2 linked regions of the Homo sapiens genome follow. The protein of the gene in region 1 purifies or fractionates together with the protein of each later gene. This does not show direct contact. Each region holds a gene or a part of one and is shown on either strand. Other genes may lie near its edges.

Evidence for each region. Proteins that work in one complex are often made in the same cells at the same time.
Region 2: the proteins of SOWAHA (region 1) and POM121C purify together in Homo sapiens (affinity purification with mass spectrometry, with the first as the bait; one large-scale study listed by BioGRID). This does not show direct contact.

The regions. Positions count from the first base shown.
Region 1 is NC_000005.10:132,811,957-132,816,101, reverse strand, and holds the start of SOWAHA (ankyrin repeat domain-containing protein SOWAHA precursor), read right to left. Parts: upstream 2,801-4,145; 5' UTR 2,481-2,800; coding exon 831-2,480; 3' UTR 1-830.
Region 2 is NC_000007.14:75,483,500-75,487,581, forward strand, and holds the start of POM121C (nuclear envelope pore membrane protein POM 121C), read right to left. Parts: upstream 2,801-4,082; 5' UTR 2,365-2,800; intron 821-2,364; exon of another isoform or gene 699-820; intron 1-698. UniProt on the Homo sapiens protein: Essential component of the nuclear pore complex (NPC). The repeat-containing domain may be involved in anchoring components of the pore complex to the pore membrane. When overexpressed in cells induces the formation of cytoplasmic annulate lamellae (AL).

The sequences.
Region 1 (4,145 bases):
TCATGATGGAGACAACCACAAATTAAAAGTATCTGTCAAAATGTCTCTTTTCTCTAAGTCACCTTTACTTTCAAGATGTACTTGTTTGCAAATATTTAGCATTCACAGTACAACTGAAATTAGTTACATTCATAATGGTCACAATCGTTATTCTGTGTTCAAGACTCTCCAGAATCTTGATTGCCTAAAACGAGGTAGATAAACTTTTAAGTTTGTTGGTTGGGATTAATTTCCTTTAGATCTTGATCATCTATTTTTTAAATAGAATTCCAAAGTATTTAGCAAAAAAAAAATTGAAAATGTCTAAGCACTTTGCCTAAAAGTGGAAAAATATAATTCCAAAAGGTTATTACGAAAGTTGCATTACCTCATTTCAATTTAAAAACAGAATAAAAGCATCAAATTACAAAACCACCACATATCTTAAAGCTGACAACCTAACATCTTTCAACATTTAAAGAGACCCTTGCTCTAGCTCTGTCTTGGGATTGTGTAGCTGCAGAGGCATCAGGTGAAGGCTTTCAGGGGCCAGACCAGCTGCTGCCCCTTAACCTTTGACCCTGGATTTCAAGTTCCCTCTAGAGTTCAGGCCTGTCTCCTGGAGTTCTTTATAGGAAGCTCTCACTGATTTCTCAAATCCCATCTCTGGAGATGGGTCATGCTTCAGAAAGAAGCTGGAGGTGCAGGCCCATCTGGGTAAAACAGGCTGCCCTGGACAAAGCTGGAAACAGAATGAGGCTCCAGGCGTTGATTGGGCTGCAGTCTTGGGCGGGTTTGGACTGCGACGAGCAGGCCACGATAGATCAACCAGGTGGTAGCCCCAGGGACCTTCAGGTTGTTGGAGGCAAACTGGGCACTAGACCAGCTAAAGGCCCCGGAGTAGGTCGACGAGAGATTTCTGAGAAGGCTGGCAGACCACCGCGGATCTTTGTCTTTTTACGTGGAGCCATGGGCGAGGCGCTCAAGAACTTGCTGAAGGAGCTCGACTTCTTCAAGCCTCGGGCCAGGTCCTGGAGCATGAGGTCGTCAGCCAGGACGCCCAGAAATGCACTGGTGGTGGAACTGAGGATGGTGGCGGCCACCTGTACGGGGCGCCTGGCAGCAAGACTGCCACTTCCACCACCGGTCGCATCTGGCTCCGTGGTGCCTCGCAGGCCTGGATCGCCAAGAAGGCGGCGCAGCGCGTACGAGGAGCCGGGCCGCAGGTACTGGTAGGCGCGACGCCCGCTGTGATCACGCACGTGCACCTGGGCACCCAGACGCACCACCAGCAGCACGGCAGCGTCCTCGTGGCCGTGCAGTGCAGCCAGGTGCAGCGGCGTGTAGCCGCCGTGGGAGCGTGCGTTCACGTCGACTGGTGCGCCACTGCGCCGCGCGACCTCCACCAGCTGCAGCGCCATCTCGCCGTCGCCGCTCTTGGCGGCCCAATGCAGGGCCGTGAAGCCAGACATGAAGTCGCGCTTGGCCGCCAAGCCGCGGTCGCGCAGCAGCAGCCCGTGCAGCTGGTGGGTCCAGCGGCCCCCGGCAGTCCGCACGAGCCACTCGTGCTCGGACGGCTCCAGGGGCACCGCGGACGGCGGCGGCGCGGCGGGCAACTCCTCGGCGTCAGGGCTCAGCAGACGCGGGCCGGCGCGCGACAGGCGCCTCAGGTGCGGGGAGCGGCCCGGGCCCAGGCCGAGGCCCAGACCGGACTCTTCCACCGAGAGCCGCCTCAGCAGCAGAGGGGAGCTCCGCGGGCTCGGCTCCTCCGACAGCTGCCGGCGCAGGCCGGGCTCCTCCGCCCGGAGGCGGAGCGTGGCGGGGGCCGGGACGCAGCGCACCGGCAGCATACAGGGCTTCTGCTGCGGCGGCCCTTTCGCTGCCCCGGGCCCGGGCTCCGCGTCTGGCGGATCAGAGCAGGGCGATGCCGCCTCAGAAGGGGCCCTAGGCGGTGGGGCCGCGTCTGCGGAGGGTCTCTCGGTGGCCTGGGCTAGCTCAAGGGCTGGAAGCGGTGGGTCGGCGGACCGCTCCCCGGGCGGCTGAGCGGGCTCGGAGGCCGGCCCCCCCGGGGTGTCCTGTGGCTCTGTTGGCAGACCCAGGTCCCCTGGCGGCTCCACTGGCCGCGGCACCCGGACCAAGGGCGGAGCTCCCGGGGCAGAGGCGCTCCGCGGCAAGACCGTCGAAGTGGGTTTCGACGGCTGGGCCGCTGCCCCCGGGGGGCCGAAGGGTGCGGGCTCGGGCTCCGGGGGCCGGGGCTTCTTCCTCAGCACCACGAACTTGACGCCGTCGAGCTCCTTCACCACCGCCACGTTGTTGACGAACTGCTTGAAGCGGTCCCTGCGGGCGGCGCGGCCCCGCGGGTCGCCGGCATCGAGCAGCGGCTTGAAGCGGCTCAGCAGCTCGGAGTTGCGCACCTTCCCGCCGTGCTCCTGCAGGAAGCCCAGCACCGCCGCCTGGCTCACCCCGGCAGCCGCAGCGGCGGCGGCGGCGGCCAGCGCCATGGTGGGGCCCTGGGTTCCTGGCTCCCGGGGCGGGTGGGCGCCGCGTCGCCGCGGGACGCGCGGGAGCGGGGTTCCGGGAGGCGCGGCCGCGCTCACCTGGTGCCTTCCCCGCGGCCAGCCGGGCGTGTCCCCGAAGCTGGACCTCGGTCGCGCCAGTGCCGCTGGGCCGGGGCGTCTCGGGGCGAAGGGCGCCGGGGGCCGCGGGGAGCGCCCACCCCCAGCGCCCCGCCGGGCCCCGGCCTTCGGGGTAGGTTTCTGCCTTTGTATTCTGTCCAATGGGCGCCTGCTTCCATCCCCCGCGCCGCGCTCGCCTTACAGGTGACAGCTGCCCCCGCGATGCAGAGGGAACCGGAGCAGAAATTCCCGCCGCCCCCCGCCCGCCCCAGAATTAAAGGCGCAGCGCTCCAGCTCTGGTCTCGGTTGCTAGGTGGGTGTGTTCCCTAGGGACGCCGCGGTCCGCCAAGGAGGAATGGATTTTTATTCCTTTAATAAACATTTAACCACTGCAAAACACCAAGCGATGATTTCAGAACAATCTTTTTTTTTTAAAGGTCGTCAATACCACTCCAGTTTTTTTTTTTTTTTACTGTGTTTCATGCAGGAAAACGGCTTCATGAGATTTACAGCAAAACCAATTCACTCTGCGCGGCAATGCACGTTACTCTAGGTTTAGAGAGACGTTTTCAAAAGCAATTTTCTCATGGTAAGAGAATACATTTTCACGTAGAATTTGGGGTATAAAACCACAGGAAACATAAACATAACAGGAAAACATAGAGGAAAACATAAAGAAGGAAAAAAAATCACTTGAAATCACCATTAACATTTTGAAATATCCTCTCCCTGTCTCCCATGTGTGTATGTATGTTTATGCTTTAAAGTAAGAAAGCAATGCGGAGTCATGCCATGGTTTTAAACCTTCGTTTGTTCCACAGATAGGTATTGAGCACGTAGTTTGTGCCAGGACTTTTTTTTTTTTTTTTTTGGCTAAGATGCGTCAGTTAGCAAGACAGATTTAAAAACCCGTGACCTAGTGGGGCTCATGTGTTGGAGGAGAACAGAAGCATATGGTGAATCCGAAAACTATATGATATACTAAATACATGCTATGAAAAAAGCACAGCGGGGTATAACGGATGAGGGTCAGGTTGCAATTTTGATCTGGGCAGTCAGGATAGTACTCGTTGTGAAAGTGACATTTAAACAAGGACTTGAAGGAGATCAGGGAGTTATGTAGACGGGGAAGAGGTTTCTAGTTGAGGGAACTGCCTGGCAGAGGTAGAATCAGTTCCTTAATTTAAAATGCAGGCCGGGCGCGATGGCTCACGCCTCTAATCCCAGCACTTTGGGAGGCTGACTTGGGCGGATGATCTGAGGTCAGGAGTTCGAGACCAGCCTGGCCATCATGGTGAAATCCATCTCTACTTAAAAATACAAAAATTAGCTGGGTGTGATGGCACGCACCTGTAATCCCAGCTACTCCGGAGGCTGAGGCAGGTGAATCGCTTGAACCCGGGAGGTGGAGGTTGCAGTGAGCTGAGATGGCGCCACTGCACTCCAGCCTGGATGACAAGAGCAAGCCCTGTCTCATAAATAAATAAATAATTGCAGTACTACAAATATATCTAACCAGAAGCAGCATATTGTAGTAGCTGAGAAAACAAG
Region 2 (4,082 bases), on another chromosome or scaffold:
TTTCCTGAGGACTCCTCAGCCACGCTTCCTATGATAGAGCCTGCAGACGTGAGCCAATTAAACCTCTTTTCTTTATAAATTACCCAGTCTTGGTTATTTCTCTATAGCAGTGTGAGAATGGACTAATACAGATGGCATTTTCCTTTTGTGATGACTGCCAAGAGTATCAGTCCTAGGTGCGGCTCAATTTCAACAGCCTTAAAATATACTACCCATACATACAAGCTTCACAAATCATTTTTGGTGCTGATCTGCCACACTAACTATATTTTACAGGATAATGTCTATTTCCACATTCCCATTTTAAAGTATGAATCCTGGCTGGGCTCGGTGGCTCATGCCTGTAATCCCAGCACTTTGGGAGGCTGAGGCGGGAGGATCACCTGAGGTCAGGAGTTTGAGACCAACCTGGCCAACATAGTGAAACCCCATCTCTTCTAAAAATACAAAAAATTAGCTGGGCATGGTGGCCCACGCCTGTAATCCCTGCTACTCAGGAGGCTGAGGCAGGAGAATCACTTGAACCCAGGAGGTGGAGGTTGCAGTGAAGCGAGATCATGCCACTGCACTGCAGCCTGGGCAACAGAGCAAGACTCCATCTCAAAAAAAAGAAAAAAAAAAGTATGAATCCTTACAAACCTCTTAAAATGCATCATAAAATAAAGTTGAGGAACATATACACAAGCAGGAAAACTCACCTGCAATGTGTTCATTTTCTGCTGCTCTTGGAAACATGCAGAGACTGTGGCTGATAGACCTAGAGGGGCAGAAGCAGGTCACTGAAGTCATGAGGGCTCCGGCCTGCAAAGGCAGAAATCACCTGCATAAGAACCGCAAAAGAAAGCTCAATAGGCTAACACCCTGTGAACACTCAACCTGCAAACACTCAGAAGGGTCTAAAAGAGTGATACAGGGTTTCACCATGTTGGCCAGGCTGGTCTCAAATTCTGGCCTCAAGTGATCCGCCTGCCTGGGCCAACATGGCAAAACCCCGTCTCTACTTAAAAATAACAAAAAAAATTAGCCAGGCATAGAGTCACATGCCTGTAGTCCCAGCTACTCAGGAGGCTGAGGCACGAGAATCCTTTGAACCTGGGAGGTGGAAGTTGCAGTGAGCCGAGACCACGCTGTTGCATTCCAGACTGGGTGAGAGACACTGTCTCAAAAAAAAAAAAAAAAAAAAAAAGAGTGATAGGGGAAGCATGCGCCTGTAACTCTAAGATAATCAGGTAGTAATTAGATGAGTTAGACTCTCATGGGTAACATGACTCCTTTTACAAATAGTCTGCCATCATCATCAAATACAAGGCGCAAAAAGAAAAAAAATTCCCATTATACGGCTCATGTTTTTTGTGGTTTGTTGGTTGAGACAGGGTCTCAATCTGCCACCCAGGCTGGAGTGCAGTGGTGCATTCACGGCTCTCTGCAGCCTCGACCTCCTGGGCTCCATCCATCCTCCCACTTCAGCCTCCTGAGTAGCTGGGACCACAGATGCATCCCAGCATGCCTGGCGACTTTTGTATTTTTTGTAGTCAGGGTGTCCCCATGTTGTCTAGGCTGGTCTCTAACTCCTGGTCTCAAGGGATACTCTTGCCCTAGCCCCGCAAAATGCTCGGATTACAGGTGTGAGCCACTGCATCCCGCCCGCATTTTCTTATTGTCTCTTTAAACTGCTTAAAATAAAATAAGCCATAGGAATTGAGTATGTGAGCTCTCAGAAATGAAATGAATGTGTATAAAATATGGTTTTGTTTCTAAATTATCTAACTGAACTTGGTTATTGCTGCACCTAATAATCTTCTATTAAGAAAACTAGGATACGGGAGAAAGAACACTGGCCTGGGAGATAAGTCTCCTGGGTTCTACTATGAGCAGCTCTACCCACAAAGCCGGTGACCTGGTCAAGTCACCCACCTAAGGCCCAGTCTCTTCCCCTAGCAACTGAGGCAGCAGCAGAGAATCCCTGCAGACTGTTCCTGCATTACTACGATTCTCCCAGGGCAGGTCTAAGGGGGGGGATCAGCAGACACTTAAGTGAGAGAATAGAAGTGCTGACGGACGTTTAGAGGCGGTCGAAATCTGGAGCACGGAGAGGAGGAGGAAGGACTGTTAGGGGTTAGCGGGGAGTGGAGACGACGTCCGCAGCTGAGGGTGGTGACACCCTCCACGCCTCCGTAAGCCTCGTCCTCCCAGATCTTCCCATGCAGCACCTGTTCGGTGCAGCCGGACCCTGCCCTCAAACCCAACACATGTCTCTCCGGCAAGCAATCGGGACCCTCCCTCTGCCCCACACTCAAAGGTCCCCAACACAAGGTGACTTCACCCAGGCCCTTCTCGCTCCGGGCCCAAAAACCCAAGACTTACCCTCCTGGGGCTCCGCAGCCTCTGCCCCACGGCTCCCGAGAGGCCGGGGCGGGCTGCTGTCGCTGGCGCGCGCGTCTGCTCGCGAGGTCCCCTCCTGTCCACCTCACCAAGGCTGTTCTGCTCCCGAGGGGCCCGGGCCGGGCCTACGGGGCAAATCCAGGCGGGTGTCCTTCTCGGGGCCCAGATCCGCCTCCCTGGGGCTCCCGGCCCCTCTGGCCCCAGCGCCGCCGGCTCCGGGGTTCACGCTCGGGGGTCCCAGCTCGAGCCTCTACCCGGCCCGCGCGAACCCTGGGCCGCACAGCTCCCGCCCGCCTAGGTGCTGGTCCGGGCGGTCAGCATCCAGCCCCGCAGACTCGGTGATTCTCGTCCACTAGAAGCCAAAGCCTGGGAACGAGAGCAAGCGATGACCTGAAGAGGCACAGGAAGCGAGGGCAGTGCGGAGGTGGCGCGCATGTGCGAACACGCACGCAGGGAGAGGTGCACAAGCGCAGGAGTGCACCGGAAGTCCGCCTCCCGGGACACCCACCGCGGGTCCCAGGACAAGTAACGGACTCTATTTCCCAGGAGCCTACGCGCTCCCCCAGTTTTGGGGCCGTCTTAAATGTCTCTACCCTGCCTAAAGGTTAAGAAGCTCCAGGCTATGAGCTTTGGCAGCCCTGAACCCCGGACTGAACTTCACCTTTGTCTTTACTCCCTTTTAGGGTCAAATCCAGGGCTCCGTTACTGGGTCCTGGAGCCCAAGTCCTCTGGGTTAGAACGGAGTTTCCCATAAGGAGAAGGAAAGGAAAGGGTGTATCATGGTCACTGCTCTGAAATGCTGAGAAGTTTCACTCAAATACTGGGACAGGATAAATGCCCAGCGATGCTTTCCAAGGAACAAAAAGAAAATAGAATTTGTAGCTGGGCGCAGTGGCTCAAGCCTGTAATCCCAGCACTTTGGGAGGCCGAGGCGGGCAGATCGCGAGGTCAAGAGATAGAGATCATCCTGGCCAACATGATGAAACCCTGTCTCTACTAAAAATACAAAAATTAGCTGGGCGTGGTGGCGCGTGCCTGTAATCCCAGCTACTCGGGAGGCTAAGGCAGGAGAATCACTTGAACCTGGGAGGTGGAGGTTGCAGTGAGCCGAGATCACGCCACTGCACTCCATCCTGGCGACAAAGCGAGACTCCATAGCTTTTCTAGATCACACAGCGAATGCCTAAAAACCGTAGAGAAATAAGGACATACACACACAAACTGAACGAGGAAGAGATACCTGTGATCCTACCTTCCCCAGGAGGATTATGTTTAGGGTTAGGTTATGTTGACCAAAAAGAGTCAAAGTCTATAAAGAGTTTTATTCTGGGCCTCCTATTTGAGTGACCATGGCTGGTGACACAGCCTCAGGGGGTCCTGAGAACGTGAGCCCAAAGTAGTTGGGTTACAGCTTGGTTTTATGCATCTTAGGGAGACAGTAGTTACAGGCAAAGACATAAATCAATACATGGGAAGTATATGTTGGGTCAGCCAGGAAAGGCTTTCAGGTCACTAGTAGATTGAAAGACTGGCAGTTGGTTCAGAGTTAAGTGTTGGCTGAACAGCTGGAAGACTACATAAAGAAATGGGCCATTGCGGTGGCTCATGCCTGTATTCCCAGCATTTTGGGAGGGTGAGCTGGGAGGATCCCTTGAGGCCAGGAGTTCAAGGACAGCCTGGGCAACACAGCGAGACCCCCA